3 linked regions of the Homo sapiens genome follow. The protein of the gene in region 1 interacts with the protein of each later gene in a biochemical or structural test. Each region holds a gene or a part of one and is shown in the gene's direction. Other genes may lie near its edges.

Evidence for each region.
Region 2: of the proteins of ELN (region 1) and PRTN3, one has a biochemical effect on the other in vitro, tested with the Homo sapiens proteins (one study listed by BioGRID).
Region 3: the proteins of ELN (region 1) and LOX form a complex in vitro, tested with the Homo sapiens proteins (2 studies listed by BioGRID and IntAct).

What each region holds. Positions count from the first base shown.
Region 1 is NC_000007.14:74,031,163-74,038,273, forward strand, and holds part of ELN (elastin isoform a precursor), read left to right. Parts: intron 1-4,201; coding exon 4,202-4,252; intron 4,253-5,392; coding exon 5,393-5,422; intron 5,423-6,544; coding exon 6,545-6,577; intron 6,578-7,111. UniProt on the Homo sapiens protein: Major structural protein of tissues such as aorta and nuchal ligament, which must expand rapidly and recover completely.
Region 2 is NC_000019.10:836,868-843,998, forward strand, and holds the start of PRTN3 (myeloblastin precursor), read left to right. Parts: upstream 1-4,131; 5' UTR 4,132-4,141; coding exon 4,142-4,202; intron 4,203-6,593; coding exon 6,594-6,759; intron 6,760-7,025; coding exon 7,026-7,131. UniProt on the Homo sapiens protein: Serine protease that degrades elastin, fibronectin, laminin, vitronectin, and collagen types I, III, and IV (in vitro).
Region 3 is NC_000005.10:122,062,695-122,068,259, reverse strand, and holds the end of LOX (protein-lysine 6-oxidase isoform 1 preproprotein), read left to right. Parts: intron 1-1,510; coding exon 1,511-1,517; 3' UTR 1,518-5,065; downstream 5,066-5,565. UniProt on the Homo sapiens protein: Responsible for the post-translational oxidative deamination of peptidyl lysine residues in precursors to fibrous collagen and elastin. Regulator of Ras expression. May play a role in tumor suppression. Plays a role in the aortic wall architecture.

The sequences.
Region 1 (7,111 bases):
AAATGGCCCTACATGTGACTTGGGGTCAGCTGGGGGTCCCAGACCAGGCTCTTCAGCTCACTGGTTCTCCATTTCCCTGGCTGCAAAATGGGGAGAAACAGCCCTGCCTGAAGTACCTCCTAGGGCCAGTGAGAGCTTCTAGCAATGTAATATCTGGGGGGAAAAAAAGCATCAAATAAAAGGACCGTGGGAATGGGCATTTTTAAAATAATCTATTCTCTTATTCAGAGTCTGCTAATTTGGGCTCATGGATCCTTGTAATTAGTGCACATTGCTAAGGTTTAATACTCCCTCTCACTACTTACACCATGTTTTGTCTAGTGGAGGGGCAGCTAATGTGTAAATAGATGTGCAATGATGAAAGAAGCAGACAGGACTCGGTTGGGGGTGGCCAGAAGGAGCCTTGAGAAATCCAGGAAGGCTTCCCAGCAGAAGTGACATTTGAGTTAAACCTAAAGAGAAAAGTAAATGGGGCCAGGTGCAGTGACTCATGCCTGTAATCCTAGCACTTTGGGAGGCCCACATGGGCAGATTGCTTGAGCCCAGGAGTTTGAGACCAGCCTGGGCAACATAGGAAGGCCCCCGTCTCTATTTAAAAAATAAATGAATATTTAAAAAGAAAGAAAAAGAAAGAAAGAGAGAGAGAGAGAGAGAAAGGAGAGAGAGAGAGACAGAAAGAAAGAAAGGAAGGAAGGAAAGAAGGAAGGAAGGAAGGAAGGAAGGAAGGAAGGAAGGAAGGAAGGAAGGAAGGAAAATGTTGGAGGACCTGTCTGTGGATGAGGGGTAAGTCCCCAGACTACAGGCCCTGGCAGGCAGAACTGAAGAGACAGAAGAGCAGATTCTCGATTGGAGGAAGCCCTGTCTGCAGTTAGTGCTGACAGCATTTGGAGGTGGTGATTTTCCCATCATGGGAGGTATGCAAGCAGAACACGAAGGATGTTTGTGGAAGGAGGTCCAGCCCAGGCCAGAAGACTATTATGATCCCTGAGAGTCTAGGATCGTGATTCTAAGATGCAAGAGACAAGTTCCACCCTGGGCTAGTCGGTGAAACATGCCAAAACCACATAAAACAAGACAAGTGTTCTCCAGGCCAACTGCTTAGGGCCAGCTGAGCAGCACAGTCAGGGAGAGCCGTGGGCTCGGGAAAGGCAGGCGGGAGAGTCTGAGCTCAGCCCTGGTGCGGGGGTAGGACTTGGACAGAGGCAAGGACATTCCTGGCAGGAGAAACGGCTTGTGCCAAGGAGTGGAGGGAGAAGTGAGGATCGCCACGGGGCCTGGGGAAGCAGCTGTTACCTTTTCAAAGTCCTTTCCAATTTCCAGCTGCTGTCATTTTATTCTCACCTCTCTCACTTGCAGAGAGGCAGGAATCCTTCGTAGCCCCTAAACCTTCTCCATTTCCTCATTGCAAAGTGGGGATTAAAACCTCGGGCTCCCCAGGCCGTCAGGTTCAGGCATGAAGTTTGGCAAATGCCACCATCATCAGGGTCTGAACGGTGGGGGTGGAGAGTGGGGACAGAGGAGATCTGGGGGAGGGGAAGCTAAGTCTTCCCCCCAGAAAGTGCCTGGGGTGCAGGAGGGCAGAACCCCAGGAGAAAGGAAGTCAGGGTTCAGCCAGGCCCAGGGGCTCAACAAGCCCAAGGCAGGGGGACTCCCAGGGCAGATGGGGATGAAACAGGTTAGAGCTGGATTCACAGACAACCACCCTGCCACCCCTCTACTTAATTCACCCATCATGTATTGAGTAACTACTGCATACCTGGCCCTGGGCCACGGACTGTGCAGTGAAATGGGAAAAAATGAAACGTAAGTGCCACTGTCTTTTTATTTTTGAGCAATTACTGTCTGCCAGGTCCAGAAGAGGACATAGCCTATTACTTGAACCCTTTTACAACTTGCAGCAACCTTGCAACCTTGCAGCAACCTTGCAACCTTGCAACAACCAAGTGATTATCTGCCCCATGTCACAAAAAAGGAAACCGATGTTCAGAGAGGTTGAGTGACTTTCCCAAGGTCGCACAGATGGTAAGAAGCAGCGAAGGCAGAATTAGAAGCCAGAGGGGTCTGTTCTGAGCACTTTGCTCTTCCCCCCACCTCCACCACACTGTTCCCTGCAGTCTGCTCTGGAGCCAGAGAGTAGAGAGGAAGGGAGAGAGGCACGTGAAGAATGAGGGAGAGGGGGAGAAAGAGGAGGAAGGAGAGAGGCCGAGGCAGAGAAAGACGCATAAGAGACTGTTGAGAGCTGGAGGCCGGAGCCAGGGAAGGCATCAGAGGCCCGAGGCGGGCCATGTGTGTGCTTGGCAGCGGATGACAGGGCCCAAGTGCTCCTTCTCAGCAGGCCCAGCCCCCCTGGGGCCACCACTCCGAGCCTTGAGGTTCTGACCAGATTACTTGCACACTTCAGGCCTGGACTGCAGTGCCTGAGGAGCCACAAGCCCTGGGAGGGGGTGGCGCCGGGGTCTTGGCTCCGGTGGCTGTGACAGCTCCACAGCCCTGACCCTGCTGGGCTGCAGCTGAGGCTGACAGGGCCCTGGGGCCAGCAAGCCCAGCTGTGCAGCGTCGCCAGGCCTCAGAGGCCAGACGTCTGGCCGCGAGGCCTCCCTGGACACATTGCAGAGACACCCGTTCCCCCAGCCCCGCCCATGCCCCACGGGGCTCCCGGCCCCTTTCAGCAAAAGCAGTAAGGGAGGGCTGGGCTGGGGCGTTGGCAAGGTGGCTTGTCAAGCTCAGAGGGGGGCCTTCTGAGGTGGAGGCAGGGCCCCCGGTTTGGGACCCTGTCTGTTGCCATGGCGATGGCTCAGGCAGGGTCTGGATCCAGCATCACAGCGTTCCCCAGTGAGAGCTTCACTGGTCCATGGGGACTGAACTCGTGATCCTGTCTGGCCGGTGAATTCGCTTTTCCTTAGGAAACTATTCACTGTGCTCATTCATGGCGTCCCCCTGCGGCCCCGGCGCCTCCTAAGACAGCCCGTGTCAGACGGCCAGAGCCCCACCCAAGCTCGGCTGCCCAGTGGCTGAGGACGCTGACCTCACGCCGTCCTATCAGTGTGGGAATGGCTGCATTTGTGCTGGCAGCTGCACCTCCTTAATGCTCGCTGTAGCAGCCCAGCCTGCCCTTCCCAAAGCTCTGGCCTCTACCCGGCAGCTCAGCTCGGGAAGGGAGTGGGCTGCCTGGTGAGAGGTGCTCAGACCCAGTGTCTTCCACCCCAGGCCCTCTCCCTGACTCCAGGGAGAACCAGGTAACACAGCAAGAACAATCATACTCTAAGGACTGGCAGCAGGGCGCAGGGGCCTGTCATCCTAGCACTTTAGGAGGCCAAGGCAGGAGGATCGCTTCCAGGAGTTCCAGACCAGCCTGGGGAACATACTGACACCCCATCTTTACAAAAAAATCAATTAGCCAGATGTGGAGGTGCACGCCTGTAGTCCCAGCTACTTGGGAGACTGAGGCAGGAGAATCGCTTGAACCTAGGAGGCAGAAGTTGCAGTGAGCTGAGATCTTGCTACTGCACTCCAGCCTGGGTGACAGAGCAAGACTCTGTCTCAAAAATAAAGCACTGGCCTGAGCTTCAATCCAGGCCCCGTCTCTTTCCAGCTGTGTGGCCCCAGGCATGTCCCTTAACCTCTCTGAGCCTGATTTCATGTCTTAAGATGATAGTCTCTGGGAGCGGTGGCTCACACCTGTAATCCCAGCACTTTGGGAGGCCGAGGCAGGCAGATCACTTGAGGTCAGGGGTTCAAGACCAGCCTGCCCAACATAGTGAAACCCTGTCTCCACTAAAAATACAGAAATTAGCCGTGCTTGGTGGCATGCACCTGTAATCCCAGCTACTCAGGAGGCTGAGGCAGCAGAATCGCTTGACCCAGGCAGACGGAGGTTGCAGTGAGCTGAGATCCCACCACTGCACTCCAGCCTGGGTGAAAGGCCAAGACTCCGTCTCAGTCTCAAACAAAACAAAATGATGATAGTAAGCCCTGCCCTTCCAACTTCACAGGCCGATTTCAAAGAGCAAGAATGAGAACACACTTTGTAAACAGAAACTGCTCTGGAGACAAGCAATGTCATTATTGCCATCAGCATTATTCTTGTTTCCATGTAATTGTGGGTTTTGCCATTGAAAGTAATGGCAAAAATCGCAGTTACTTTTGCACCAGCCTAATAGTTCTGGCTCCTGGAGGACTGACTCTACCTGTTTCCTTTCAGGGGTCCCTGGGGCCATTCCTGGTGGAGTTCCTGGAGGAGTCTTTTATCCAGGTAACGTACATGAAACTTCCACACACCCAGGTCATGCGGATGATGCTGATGTCCATAATAGATGCACATTTTGACACTACAGAAGGTAGGAACATTGACACGCCTACCAGAAGTCACACCCACTTAAAAATGCAATTAACAAGACATTGATTTACAGCTATTAAGAGCATACAGGCTGGACATGGTGGCTTATGCCTGTAATCTCAACACTCTGGGAGGCAGAGAAACAAGGATTGCTTGAGGCCAGGAGTTTCAGACCAGCCTGGACAACATAGTGAGATCCCCCTCTCTACACACACACACACACACAAATTTAAAATTAGCCATGTTCTGCATTGAGAAAAATGAAAATGAAGTATAGAAATTAAAAAAAAATTAGCTGGGCATAGTGGTGCACGCCTGTAGTCCTAGCTACTGGGGAGGCTGAGGCAGGAGGATCACTTGAGCTTAGGAGTTCAAGGCTGCAGTGAGCTATAATAGCACCACTGCACTGAAGTCTGGGTGACAGAGTAAAACCCTGTCTCTAAAAAGAAAAGGGGAAAAAAAGAAAAGAAAAATCAAAAGTAATACTTTCAATACTTAAAAAGTATTTGAGGCCAGGCACGGTGGCTCAAGCCTGTAATCCCAGCACTTTGGGAGGCTGAGGCAGGCGGATCACAAGGTCAGGAGATCAAGACCATCCTGGCTAACACGGTGAAACCCTGTCTCTACTAAAAATACAAAAAATTAACCAGGTGTGGTGGCGAGAGCCTCTAGTCCCAGCTACTCGGGAGGCTAAGGCAGGAGAATGATGTGATTGAACCCAGGAGGCGGAGCTTACAGTGAGCCGAGATCGCGCCACTGCACTCCAGCCTGGGCGACAGAGGGAGACTCCGTATAAAAAAAAATTAAAAAATTAAAAAAAGCATTTGAGTGTACAGAAGTGACCTGGAAGTGGGGAGAGACGCCAGCACTCCCCCAGATACATACTGACACTGGACTACTGGCCAAGCAGAAGAGAAAACCGAGGCTTGCAGAGAGCAGGTCTTGCCCAAGGTCACGTAGTTAGGCAGAGGTGGATTCAGCCATAGCTGGGGGTGGCAGCGGGCTTGCCTGGCAGAAGTACCGATGATCTCTCTTTCTCTTTCTCTCCCCCCACAGGGGCTGGTCTCGGAGCCCTTGGAGGAGGAGGTGAGCTCAGAAACCACACTTGTTCATCACTGAAAGGGCCTGGGTTTCACCCGAGCCACATGCATCCTCAGACCTGAGAACCCTGGGAGACCCGAGCATCAAGGACTCCCTCATTTCACAGACAGCATCCAGGCGGTGGGAGGAGGCTTCTTTGAGAACCAGAACCCATTGGCCTTCCCAGTCCCTCCCCTAGACTTTATGTCTGGTGCCCTCTGCCTTCCTATTTCTTCTTTTTTTTGGTGGGGGAGGACGGGGGGACAGAGTCTCGTTCTGTCGCCCAGGCTGGAGTGCAGTGGCGTGATCTCAGCTCACTGCAGCATCTGCCTCCCAGGTTCAAGTGATGCTCCTCCCTCAGCCTCCCAATTAGCGAGGACTACAGGCGCGTGCCACCACGCCCAGCTTATTTTTGTATTTTTTCTAGAGACAGGGTTTCATCATGTTGGCCAGGCTGGTCTCGAACTCCCAACTTCAAGTGATCTGCCTGACTCGGCCTCTCAAAGTGCTGGGATTACAGGCGTGAGCCACCTTGCCCGGCCCCTTGCCCGGCCCCTTCCTATTTCTTTTTATCCTCAAAAACCTCCCTGCCAAGCCGGCTGAGCAGGCACCATCTTCTTTTTTTTTTTTTTGAGACAAAGTCTTGCTCTTGTCACCCAGGCTGGAGTGCAGTGGCGCGATCTCAGCTCACTGTAACCTCCACCTCCCAGGTTCAGGTGATTCTCCTGCCTCAGCCTCCTGAGTAGCTGGGATTACAGGCACATGCCACCACGCCTGGCTAATTTTTGTATTTTTAGTAGAGACAGGGTTTCACCATGTTTGCCAGGCTGGTCTCAAACTCCTGACCTCAGATGATCCGCCTGCCTCAGCTTCCCAAAGTGCTAGGATTACAGGCGTGAGCCACCACCCCCAGCCCATCATCCCCTTTTGAGGCTGAGACTCTGGGACTCAGAGAGTATAAACCACGAGTTAGAAGTAGAGCTAGGTTCCCAGGGGCTCCAAGTCTGAGCGGGAGGACCTGGGGTGTGTGATTCCACACTGCCCACACTTTGCCCGGGTTGGGGGTTGGATAAGTAGTAGATGGATAAGCTGGGCCACCCCATTCACTATCTTCTCTTCCCTCTGCAGCGCTGGGGCCTGGAGGCAAACCTCTTAAGCCAGGTAAGACCCAAGGCCTCGGAGCATTGAGAGACAGCGAGGGAGCTGGGGAGGGAGGAGCCTACCCAGCTGGGAATGGGACAAGGAAACTAGGAACAGGACAAGGAAGCCAACGGGCAGGAGGAAGGAGGGAGGTGTGGACACCGATTAGCCTCCCAAGGATGAGTAGGCCGGGGCCAGGTCCCAGGGCTTCCAGGAACAAGAGGCTGGAAGCAGCTCCATGTCCTCCCTGTGTGAGGGCGTCTAGCATCTACCCTACATGTGCATGTGTGTTCACCCAGCTGTCCAGAGACTCCTCTCTGCAAAGGAGAGGCTGTTAGAGGCAACATCAGGGATTGCTCCGGTTCCAGTGGCCTCCAAGCCTTACATGACCCTCGGGAGCTCAGACACAGATCCTCAGCCCCAGACTTCCCCTGAGTGGTCCCCTAGCCCTTGACCCCAGACCAATACCCCAGATCACCCTGACCTTGATGCCATTCTGAGCCCTTCTCCTGACTCCAGATGGAGCACTGGTCTCAAGCCAAAGCTTAACCCCAG
Region 2 (7,131 bases), on another chromosome or scaffold:
AGGACGGGGCAGCCCCCTGGGCAGCTCTCGCGTGTGCTAGATCCAGCAGTGTGTGTGCAAGGTCTTTCTTTTCTTTCTTTTCTTTTTTTTTTGGTTGACAGCTTTATTGAGATGTCCTTCACACACACCAAGCAATTCACCCACTTAACAATTCGGTAGTGGCCAGATGGTGGGGGAGGATCGCTGGAGCCCAGGAGTTCCAGACGAGCCTGGGCAGCATAGCAAGACCCCTCTCTATTAAAAAAAAAAAAAGGCAGGGCGCGGTGGCTCACGCCTGTAATCCCAGCACTTTGGGAGGCTGAGGCCGGCGGATCACCTGAGGTCAGGAGTTCGAGACCAGCCTGGCCAACATGGTGAAATCCCGTCTCTACTACAAATACAAAAAACAAATTATTCAGGCGTGGTGGCAGGTGCCTGTAATCCCAGCTACTTAGGAGGCTGACGCAGGAGAATGGCTTGAACCCAGGAAGCCAAGGTCACACCACTGCACTCCAGCCTGGGTGACAAGAACAAAACTCCATGTAAAAACAAATCAAGAAACCTCAAATCCGTCGACCCCCACTGCTGCCCTGCAGAAGGTCCTATTACCGTCCTCACCCGCCTTTACAGGTGGGGAAACTGAGGACTGCAAGCCAAACAGCTTGCCTCAGCATGAGCTGACTCATGGCTGAAACCAACAGCACTTTTGTTGAATGAGAATAACCCTTTTATTTTGAGACGGTGTCTCGCTCTGTTGCCCAGGCTGGAGTGCAGTGACGCGATCTCAGCTCACTGCCCCCTCCACCTCCCGGGTTCAAGTAATTCTCCTCCCTCAGCCTCCCAAGTAGCTGGGATTACAGGCATCTGCCACCACACCCAGCTAATTTTTGTATTTTTAGTAGAGTCGGGGTTTCACCATGTTGCCCAGGCTGGTCTTGAACTCCTGACCTTGTGATCCATCTGCCTCAGCCTCCCAAAGTGCTGGGATTACAGGCAACAGCCACCGCGCCCGGCCACAGCTCTAGTTCTTTTTCTTTTTTTTTTTTTTGAGACGGAGTCTCGCTCTGTCGCCCAGGCTGGAGTGCAGTGGCACAATCTCTGCTCACTGCAAGCTCCGCCTCCCGGGTTCACGCCATTCTCCTGCCTCAGCCTCCCGAGTAGCTGGGACTACAGGCGCCCGCTACCACGCCCGGCTAATTTTTTGTATTTTTAGTAGAAACGGGGTTTCACCGTGTTAGCCAGGATGGTCTCGATCTCCTGACCTCGTGATCCGCCCGCCTCGGCCTCCCAAAGTGCTGGGATTACAGGCGTGAGCCACCGCGCCCGGCCCACAGCTCTAGTTCTTTAATACACATCAGGTCGGTCATGGTGGCTCATGCCTGTGATCCCAGCATTTGGGGAGGTCAAGGCAGGAGCGTCCCTGAAGGCTGGCAGTTCAAGACCAGCCAGGGCAACATAGCAAGACCCCATTTCTACAAAAAATTAAACAGCCAACCAAAAAAAAAAAAAAAAAGAAAGAAAAACTTTAGCTGGACATGGTGGAGCATGCCTGTGGTCCCAGCTACTTGGGGGGTTGAGGCAGGAGAATTGCTTGAGCCCAGGAGGTCGAGGCTGCAGTGAGCCATGATTACACCACTGCACTCCAGCCTGGGTGACACAGCCAGACCCTGTCTCAAAAAATATATATGTATATTTTAAAATATTATATATTATATAATGTAAATAATATACATGCTACATATTTTATGTATACATCTATGTTATATACATTAATATAGCCAGGTGCAGTGGCTCACACCTGTGTTCCCAGCACTTTGGCGGGATTACGGGCGGGTCACCTGAGGTCAGGAGTTCGAGACCAGCCTGGCCAATATAGTGAAACCCCGTCTTTACTAAAAATACAAAAAAAAAAAAAAATTAGCCAGGCGTGGTGGTGGGCGTCTATAATCCCAGCTATACAGGAGGCTGAGGCAGGAGAATTGTTTGAACCCGGGAGGCGGAGATTGCAGTGAGCTGAGATCGCACCACTGCTCTCCAGCCTGGTGACAGAGCGAGACTCTGTCTCAAAAAAAAAAAAAAATCCAAAGGGGAAAACAGTAACTGGACAGTGCAGGAACCGGCAGATGCCCTGACCACGTGGTCAAGGTTATTACCATCAGCACGAGACAGGCCGAAGCCATGGGCTTCGACGTGGGGGGCCTGAGACAGACACACGCCACGCCCGGGACTCCCTCCATTGAGTCCTGAGGCCACCCAGGACCATCCCCACGGAGGGACGCTCTGCAGAGTGACCACCAGCTCTCCTCAATGGTCCCAAGGGCTGAGGGAGGGCAGAGGGACTGCGCCCGCTGGAGGAGACCCTGACATCTGAAGATGGGTGGCTTGTGTACCCAGGACCCAGCAAAGGGTGGCTGGTGATACTCAGGGGGCTGGGGCAGAGGGGGCCATTTGGAATCAACTTTCGCGCCCTGGCTTCGATCACAGCCTGGAGGGTTGAGCAAGAGGACAGAATTTAGGGAAGCTGGGGGAGGGAGGCCGGGGGAGGGAGTTTGGGGAGCGGGGAGGGAGTTTGGACCCTTTGGACTTCTGTAAGCGTGAAATCCTTTCCAAATGAAACGTTAAAAAGCTTTTTTTCTTTTTGGCCTCCAAGTTCATTCAGTGCTTCTCTCCATTTCACTGTAGGTTTAAACCGTTCAGTTATAAATAAATAATTTTATCCTCTGTCCTCGGCTTTCCCCCGTTTCCGGCACTGCAGACATGGGGGCTGGATTTGTCTCTGCGGCGGGGCCATCCTGGGCACTGCAGGGCCCTGCCAGGAGCTCCCTCCAAGTCGTGACAACCACGGATGTCTCCAGGCCTCACACAGGGACCCCTGGGGGCAGAATCACCCCAGGGTTAGAGGATTCCACAGACCCCAAGAGACTCTGAGTCCCATGATCCTCTGCCCTGCTGAGGTCCCAGGAGGCTGCACACATTGAAATCCACACCCTGAGTGGGAGGGAGAGAGGAGGCGAGTCCCGGGAGCTGGGGTCCCCCGGGTTTATGCCGTACGCCCCATCGGGAGTTTATTCTGGTGTCCGGTGTGAGCAGGGGGCAGACTGGATTTTTTATTTTTTATTTTTATTTATTTATGTTTTGAGATGGAGTCTTGCTCTGTTGCCCAGGCTGGAGTGCAGTGGCACGATCTTGGCTCCCTGCAACCTTCGCCTCCCAGGCTCAAGTGATTCTCCTGCCTCAGCCTCCTGAGTAGCTGGGACTACAGGCGCCCGCCAACACGCGCAGCTAATTTTTGTATTTTTAGTAGAGATGGGGTTTCACTATGTTGGCCAGGCTGGTCTTGAACTCCTGACCTCAGGCGATCCACCCGCCTCGGCCTCCCAAAGTGCTGGGATTACAGGTGTGAGGCACCGCACCTGGCCATTTTTTTCCCCAAATAATGAACACTGGTCTCTCCCCTGGGCCCTGTGGACATCGGGGCTGGATCCTTCTCTGGGGCAGGCCCGTCCTGGGCACTGCAGGGTGCTAGGCATCATCCTTGGCCTCCACCCACTCCATGCCAGGAGCTCCCCTTTCGTGACAGCCACAGGTGTCCTCAGACCTCGCCCAGGGTCCCCTGGGGGCAGAATCACCTCTTGATTGAGAATCCTGGCCTTAAAGGGGGAAGAAAACCCCCAGACAAAACTGGCAGGAGGATGTTCGCTGGGGCCTCAGGTGAGGCACTGAGGGCACTCGTGGTGGGGCCCTGCCTTCCCGAGCTCTGCATCCTGTCCCCTGCTACGTCCTGCTGTCTGTCCGTTTCCAGCTCACCCACCCACGGGACACACCTGCCACGGCCGGCTTTGCTGGGGCCACAGGGACCTCGTCAGGGAGGCGTCTCCTTGTGGGTGGCACGTGGGCATGTGTTGCTCTGAGGGCTGTGGCCATGTTGCCCACCTGGCCAGGGACCCCCGACTTGGGTGGGTGACAGCCAGCCTCCCCGCCCCCACAAAGGTTGGGACCTTGAGCCCAAAGCCCCCACCTCCTCCCCGGAGTCCGTTCTGACTCCCAGGCTCCCAAGGCAAAAGGAGGAAGTGGGGACCCAGCCTGGGCATTGGGCAACTCAACGGCCTCTGGCATTGGGCTATAAGAGGAGCTTGACCGTGGGTGCACCCTGGACCCCACCATGGCTCACCGGCCCCCCAGCCCTGCCCTGGCGTCCGTGCTGCTGGCCTTGCTGCTGAGCGGTGAGTGAGCCACGTGCCCATCCATCCAGCCTCCAGGCCCCGGTGGATTGTGGGGAAATATCCACCACGAGGTCCATCCAAAGCCCTTCTGGCACAGCTGGGGAAACTGAGGCAGGGTCAGGGGAGACTCCACTCACTGCTCGGGACCAACGCTTGCAGGGGTGGGGAGGACAAGGGCAAGGGGGAGCCCTGGCCATTTGACTCAGTTGCCTATCTGTAAAACGGGCAAAACCCAGCCCTTCCCTCCTGAGGAGCTGTTTTGGGAATTAGCTAGTAACAGGCGAATTCCTGGACAGCACCCAGCCTTCAGCAAATGCTCAGTGAATATGCATGAATGAATGAATGAGTGAATGAATGAGTGAGTGAGTGAATGAGTGAACAAATGAATGAGTGAATGAATCAATGAGTGAGTGAATGAATGAGTGAATGAGTGAATGAGTGAACGAATGAATGAGTGAATGAATCAATGAGTGAGTGAATGAATGAGTGAATGAGTGAATGAATGAGTGAATGAGTGAATGAGTGAACGAATGAATGAGTGAATGAATGAATGAGTGAGTGAGTGAAAGGGTCGAGGAGTTAGTGATGCTGGAATCAGGGGAAGAAGAGAGCATGGGCCCCCTCAGGTCCCTATCCTGAGGGTGATTTTCTTTTTCTTTTTCTTTTTTTTTTTTTTGAGACGGAGTCTCGCCCTGTCGCCCAGGCTGGAGTGCAGTGGCGCGATCTCGGCTCACTGCAAGCTCAGCCTCCCGGGTTCACGCCTTTCTCCTGCCTCAGCCTCCCGAGTAGCTGGGACTACAGGCGCCCACCACCATGCCTGGATAATTTTTTGTAATTTTTGTAGAGACGGGGTTTCAAGGTGTTAGCCAGGATGGTCTCGATCTCCTGACTTCGTGATCCGCCTGCCTCAGCCTCCCAAAGTGCTGGGATTACAGGCGTGAGCCACCGCGCCTGGCCCTTTTTTTTTCTTTTTTGAAACGGAATCTTGCTCTGTCGCCCAGGCTGGAGTGCAGTGGTGCAATCTCAGTTTACTGCAGCCTCAGCCTCCTGGGGTCAAATGATTCTCCTGCCTCCGCCTCTTGAGTAGCTGGGATTACAAGCACACACCACCACACCTGGCTAGTTTTTGTATTTTTAGTAGAGATGGGGTTTCACCACGTTGGTCAGGCTGGTCTCGAACTCCTGACCTGAGGGGGATTTTCAATGCCTCAGTTTGTTCATCTGCAAAATGGGTCTCTTTGTTGGCTGATTTTTTTTTTTTTTTTTGCTTCTTTTTTTTTATTTTGTTTTGTTTTGTTTTTTTGAGATGGGGTCTCACTCAGGCATGAGCCACTGCGCCCAGGATTTTTTTTTTTTTTTTTTTTTTTTGAGACAGAATCTCACTCTGTTGCCCAGGCTGGAGTGCAGTGGTGTGATCTCGGCTCACTGCAACCTGTGCCTCCTGGGTTCAAGCGATTCTCCTGCCTCAGCCTCCCAGGCAGCTGAGATTACAGGTGCGAACCACCACACCTGGCTAATTTTTTTTTTTTTTTTTTTTGAGACGGAGTGTCATTCTGTTGCCAGGCTGGAGTGCAGTGGGGCGATCTTGGCTCACCACAACCTCCGCTTCCTGGGTTCAAGCGATTCTCCTGCGTCAACCTCCGGAGTAGCTGGGACTACAGGCACGTGCCACCACGCCCAGCTAATGTTTGTATTTTTAGTAGAGACAGGGTTTCACCATGTTGGCCAGGATGGTCTCCATCTCTTGACCTCAGGTGATCCACCCACCTCGGCCTCCCAAAGTATTGGGATTACAGGCGTGGGCCAACCGCACCCGACCAATTTTTCTGCTTCTTTAAAAACATTTTTTTAAATTTTGTTTTAGAGACAGGGTCTTGCTCTGTTGCCCAGGCTGGAGTGCAGTGGTGTGATCTCAGTTCACTGCAGCCTTGACCTCCTGGGCTCAAGCGATCCTCCCTCCTCAGCCTCCCAAGTAGCTGGGACGACAGGTGCACACCACCATGCCTGGCTAATTTTAAAATTTTTTGTAGAGATGGGGTCCTCACAATTTTGCCCAGGCTGGTCTTGAACTCCTGAGCTCAAGGGAGCCTCCTGCCTCGGCCTCCCAAAGTGTTGGGATTACAGGCGTGAGCCACTGCACCCAGCCACCTGGTCTGCGTCTTAAAAGCCTTCCTGACTCTCAGGACTGAAAGCTGCCACCAGGGCGCCTTTGGAAATCGTCGTAATTATAACCCCCCCGGCCTGGGCGCTGAGTCCTTCCCACCAGCCAGCAGGCACTGACCGGGTTGCAGATCGGGAGACGGAGGCTCGGAGAGGCCCAGGGGCTGCTCTGCCATCCCCCCTTTCCCTGCAGCCTGGGGGCTCCCTGACGCCTGGACTCCCCCCCTGCAGGTGCTGCCCGAGCTGCGGAGATCGTGGGCGGGCACGAGGCGCAGCCACACTCCCGGCCCTACATGGCCTCCCTGCAGATGCGGGGGAACCCGGGCAGCCACTTCTGCGGAGGCACCTTGATCCACCCCAGCTTCGTGCTGACGGCCGCGCACTGCCTGCGGGACATGTGAGCGGCCGCCTCCACACCCCTGTCCGCCCGCCCCGCCCTCTTCCTCCAGCCCTGGCCCGGCCACTGTCCCTCTGCCCGGGGAGGACCCAGCTAAGCCCCGTCTGCAGACCCCAGGCCCCGCGCGCGTGGGCAGTTCTGGGGGGAGGCCCGGGGCAGGGTCGCCGAGGGAGGGGTCTGGGGCTGCACCGCGGCCTCGGGAAGGGCCGGCTGTGGGCGGCGGCGAGTGTCCAGGGCGCCGAGGAGTGACCACCCCACCCCCGCAGACCCCAGCGCCTGGTGAACGTGGTGCTCGGAGCCCACAACGTGCGGACGCAGGAGCCCACCCAGCAGCACTTCTCGGTGGCTCAGGTGTTTCTGAACAACTACGAC
Region 3 (5,565 bases), on another chromosome or scaffold:
TTGCTCCAGCAATATGACTGTACAAGAGGGATTCCTGATGTGGTCACTCATATAGAGTTGAATTTTTTTTTTTTTTTTTTTTTTTACTAGTTATTACTGACTGTAACAAACTTCAAGAGTGGTTGAAGCTGGAATGTTTATAACTAATATAAACCAGATGAAAATATGAAAAGTGAAATTATAATTAGTGATCATAATAAAATGTCATACTTATTCTGAGTGGAAATATTGGGGAAAGTATAGAATATTTGAGAAAAAAACCCCACACCTTCAGGATAGTAATACTTGCTTCTTACATTTTGACTTTCACATCAGGCCTTCCTTCCTAGGAATCAGAGTTCAGACAGAGGAGAGGTCTCTTTGGGCTGAGTTTCAGGAGTGACTTTAGGATACATTTGAATTGAGCCTTGAAGTCTGGGGAATGCACCGGGGAGCATTAAGGAAAGGAAGCCCAGGGCAAGTCAACGTCACAGGCAACTTGCATGGCAGGAGGAAACTGCAGGGCATGTTTGGAAAAACAAGTCTTCTAGTTTGGCTAAAGCATGAATTTTGTGGAGTTACGAGTTGGACAAAAAGGATGGAAAAGTAAGTTGAGCCAGATGGAAGACAGCCCTGAAGAGCAGGCTAAAATTTATTCTGGAGGCAGTGGGAGGCTGAAGCTTTTTGAGCAGGAAGTGTAACTTGCCTAAGGCCATCAGGTCAGTCTGGTGGCTGTGTAAGCAGCAGTGAGTGTGACTCTGAAGACATATCATGTATCAGTTCACTGATTGCTTTTCCTGCCAGATATTTAAGAGCATTCTGTTGATGTGTAAAAGCCACCCAGTAAATAGTTGAATAGGTATGTGCTGTTAATGTACCCTCTCTCCTTCATTTTCCTCACTGAAACAAAATGTACGGACCAGGTGACTCTGAGGCTTCTTTCAGTTATAAGATACTATGTAAGTTTTTTTTTTTCTCCTCACAGAATTTACTGTTTGGAAATTGGTAGTTTATGATTTGAATAAGTGAATTTTCACTTCCTTACATGAAGATCTATGGTCACATTTAAAGACAGTAATATTTGATTGATTAGCTTTGGTCCAGTTTCTGCCTATTAATGTATTATTCTACATCCAAAGCCATGCTGGAGAAGGACTAATTCAAGATGGAGCAGAGGCCTTGACTCTACTTCTTGGTGGACATGCCACCCTTGTTCCATGGAATGAATTCCCCTGGTCAGGGATGCTGGTCCCAGAAGTCCTGCTGTACTCTTGAGTGTTTCAGAAGTGGTTTCTTTGCCTCTAAATGTGAAGAGTGTAGGCATCAGGCATCTCTGCTGTTGACATAGTCACTTTCTTCAAACCATTATTAAAATGATGTACTACTGCATAATTTCACAACATGATTGCTGCTTAGGTGGAGGGAAACTGTTGCATAAAGTTTTTAAAAGGTTGACTTTAAATTTGTCTGTTGTACTCATTCATTATATTATCAGGTTAATAATTTGTCTTATTTTGTCTTCTTAATCTAGGTATTAGAAGGCAAAGCAAAACTCCCAATGGATAAATCAGTGCCTGGTGTTCTGAAGTGGGAAAAAATAGACTAACTTCAGTAGGATTTATGTATTTTGAAAAAGAGAACAGAAAACAACAAAAGAATTTTTGTTTGGACTGTTTTCAATAACAAAGCACATAACTGGATTTTGAACGCTTAAGTCATCATTACTTGGGAAATTTTTAATGTTTATTATTTACATCACTTTGTGAATTAACACAGTGTTTCAATTCTGTAATTACATATTTGACTCTTTCAAAGAAATCCAAATTTCTCATGTTCCTTTTGAAATTGTAGTGCAAAATGGTCAGTATTATCTAAATGAATGAGCCAAAATGACTTTGAACTGAAACTTTTCTAAAGTGCTGGAACTTTAGTGAAACATAATAATAATGGGTTTATATATGTCATAGCATAGATGAATTTAGAAACAATGCTCCTACTGTTTAAATACATATGGACACATCTGGTGCTGAGAAAGAAACAAACACATTACCATTGGTGTCAAGAAATATTACTATATAGCAGAGAAATGGCAATACATGTACTCAGATAGTTACATCCCTATATAAAAAGTATGTTTACATTTAAAAAATTAGTAGATAACTTCCTTTCTTTCAAGTGCACAATTTCATTTTGACTTGAGTCAACTTTTGTTTTGGAACAAATTAAGTAAGGGAGCTGCCCAATCCTGTCTGATATTTCTTGAGGCTGCCCTCTATCATTTTATCTTTCCCATGGGCAGAGATGTTGTAAGTGGGATTCTTAATATCACCATTCTTGGGACTGGTATACATAAGGCAGCCGTGAAACTGGAAAGTCATTTTGATGACTGATGTGATACATCCAGAGGTAAAATGCATTTAAACATATTAAAGTATTTGCCAAAGATACAATTTTCTTGCTGACATAAAAATCACACAAACAAGTCCCCCCCAAACCACAACTGTCTCTCAAATAGCTTAAAAAAATTGAAAAACATTTTAGGATTTTTCAAGTTTTCTAGATTTTAAAAAGATGTTCAGCTATTAGAGGAATGTTAAAAATTTTATATTATCTAGAACACAGGAACATCATCCTGGGTTATTCAGGAATCAGTCACACATGTGTGTGTGTCTGAGATATAGTCTAAATTAGCAAAGCACATAGTATTACATACTTGAGGGGTTGGTGAACAAAGGAAAAATATACTTTCTGCAAAACCAAGGACTGTGCTGCGTAATGAGACAGCTGTGATTTCATTTGAAACTGTGAAACCATGTGCCATAATAGAATTTTGAGAATTTTGCTTTTACCTAAATTCAAGAAAATGAAATTACACTTTTAAGTTAGTGGTGCTTAAGCATAATTTTTCCTATATTAACCAGTATTAAAATCTCAAGTAAGATTTTCCAGTGCCAGAACATGTTAGGTGGAATTTTAAAAGTGCCTCGGCATCCTGTATTACATGTCATAGAATTGTAAAGTCAACATCAATTACTAGTAATCATTCTGCACTCACTGGGTGCATAGCATGGTTAGAGGGGCTAGAGATGGACAGTCATCAACTGGCGGATATAGCGGTACATATGATCCTTAGCCACCAGGGCACAAGCTTACCAGTAGACAATACAGACAGAGCTTTTGTTGAGCTGTAACTGAGCTATGGAATAGCTTCTTTGATGTACCTCTTTGCCTTAAATTGCTTTTTAGTTCTAAGATTGTAGAATGATCCTTTCAAATTGTAATCTTTTCTAACAGAGATATTTTAATATACTTGCTTTCTTAAAAAACAAAAAAACTACTGTCAGTATTAATACTGAGCCAGACTGGCATCTACAGATTTCAGATCTATCATTTTATTGATTCTTAAGCTTGTATTAAAAACTAGGCAATATCATCATGGATACATAGGAGAAGACACATTTACAATCATTCATTGGGCCTTTTATCTGTCTATCCATCCATCATCATTTGAAGGCCTAATATATGCCAAGTACTCACATGGTATGCATTGAGACATAAAAAAGACTGTCTATAACCTCAATAAGTATTAAAAATCCCATTATTACCCATAAGGTTCATCTTATTTCATTTTTAGGGAATAAAATTACATGTCTATGAAATTTCAATTTTAAGCACTATTGTTTTTCATGACCATAATTTATTTTTAAAAATAAATTAAAGGTTAATTATATGCATGTATGTATTTCTAATAATTAAAAATGTGTTCAATCCCTGAAATGTCTGCCTTTTAAATATAACACCTACTATTTGGTTAATTTTGACGATTTTTTTTTTTCAATTAGGAAGCTAAAAATACTACTTTATTCCTTATATGAACATTCATCCCCCTCCTGGCACCTCTAAACACACCCAAATAACTCACAAGTACTGATTTAACACTCTGTATTACTGAACTTCTTTGAACTATTTTGAACTTTGAATCTCTTCTCTGAATAACTGCCGAAACTCAAAGATAATAATTAGTTGATGAAGGTTATCAATTAATAAAATAACACAGACCAGTCTTACCAAACTCTAAATACATTTTAAAAAATAGGAACTGGCAATGATAAAAAGAATGTTGAGTACTGACAGGAGATTGGCTTTTACACTAAAAAAGACAGAAAATGGACTAAATAGGAACATAATTTCAGAGTTTATGAGTCAGTTTACAATATGCCATATTAGCGATCTCATGATGATTCAGACCACAGTCTGGGTTAAAGATGTCTTGACCTCTGAGGCTAGCATAACATATATGAGAATACAACTTGCCTATTTCCAGAAAATCTGTATATTTTTATAGAATAACTTTATTTACAATTTCTATCATCCAATTACTCACTAGGCATTATTTGTAGTACTTTTTTTCTCTTTGAAATCTCATAGGATAGTCACACTTATAAACATTCCCAATATTCGGATTCTAGAAGAAATGCAATTCATTAAAATTTTCCTGGCACTGAGAGTTAATCTTTAGCAGATTGCATGAAAATACTGAATTCCTGGTAAGGAGATATTTTGTTTTAAAAATAATGTGTTTTGATACGAATCAGTGTATTAACTGATAACTAAAAAGTACTCTTTTTTCTATATATACATATTTTTTTGAACTCATATTCACAATCAACATATTCAATCAGTGAGTTAAGTCTCATTCCTAGCTACCAAAATTCCTGGGCCACTTTTAAACACTAAACATTTCATTTATCCTCTAAGCTAAAATGGTGCTGAGTTATTTAAATCTGAATGTAAAATGCATTAAATCTTAGCTTGTGGTATATAAACATTTAATTAATATAAAACTGCTTGCTATAAACTAAGTAACATGTCATTTGGTGTTAGGTTTTTAGTGAAGTTTTAGCTTCTCCCAAATTTTTCAGGAATGTTATTTGTAAGACGTGTAACTTTTTTGAAGAACTCTTATTTTAAATGCTCAGACATTGGCTTTATGTTCCTCTTTGCATTCTCATATTCTTTTATTATACATCTATACTATGATTGCAAGATTATATAAAAATGCCTTGAATAAATGATTTCAAGTGTCTATAGTAGTCATTTGTTGTTATATAAATAAATCATCTGATTTTCATTTTAGTTGAAATGTTATAAGCCATGGATATGGTGTTAGTTTCTCTTAATTGCCTTTTGTACTAAAAAATTGTTTAATTAGGTCACACTGGAAATTTGTCTATGATGGATAAAAATCTAGCTGATGTTTTAAGTAGACACTGTCATACATAAACTTTTATCACCAGTACCAGCTACTTATAAGGACACAGAGCAGGCATTGCAAGAACAATCACACTGCTTTAATTAAGGTTTACAAGAAATATATCTGACTATAGATATAAACACACACATACACACACACACATCTAATTCTAGCTACAAATTATTTGTATAAAGAGACACATTGCTATCATAGTAATCCTTATTTAAATATGCACCAGATTAGCCTGAAATCTGGTAACATGAGAGGGCAAACAGGCCCAAACTTTGGGCAAGTGTTTTGGGGGAACAACTCACAAAATTAACCCACAAAAA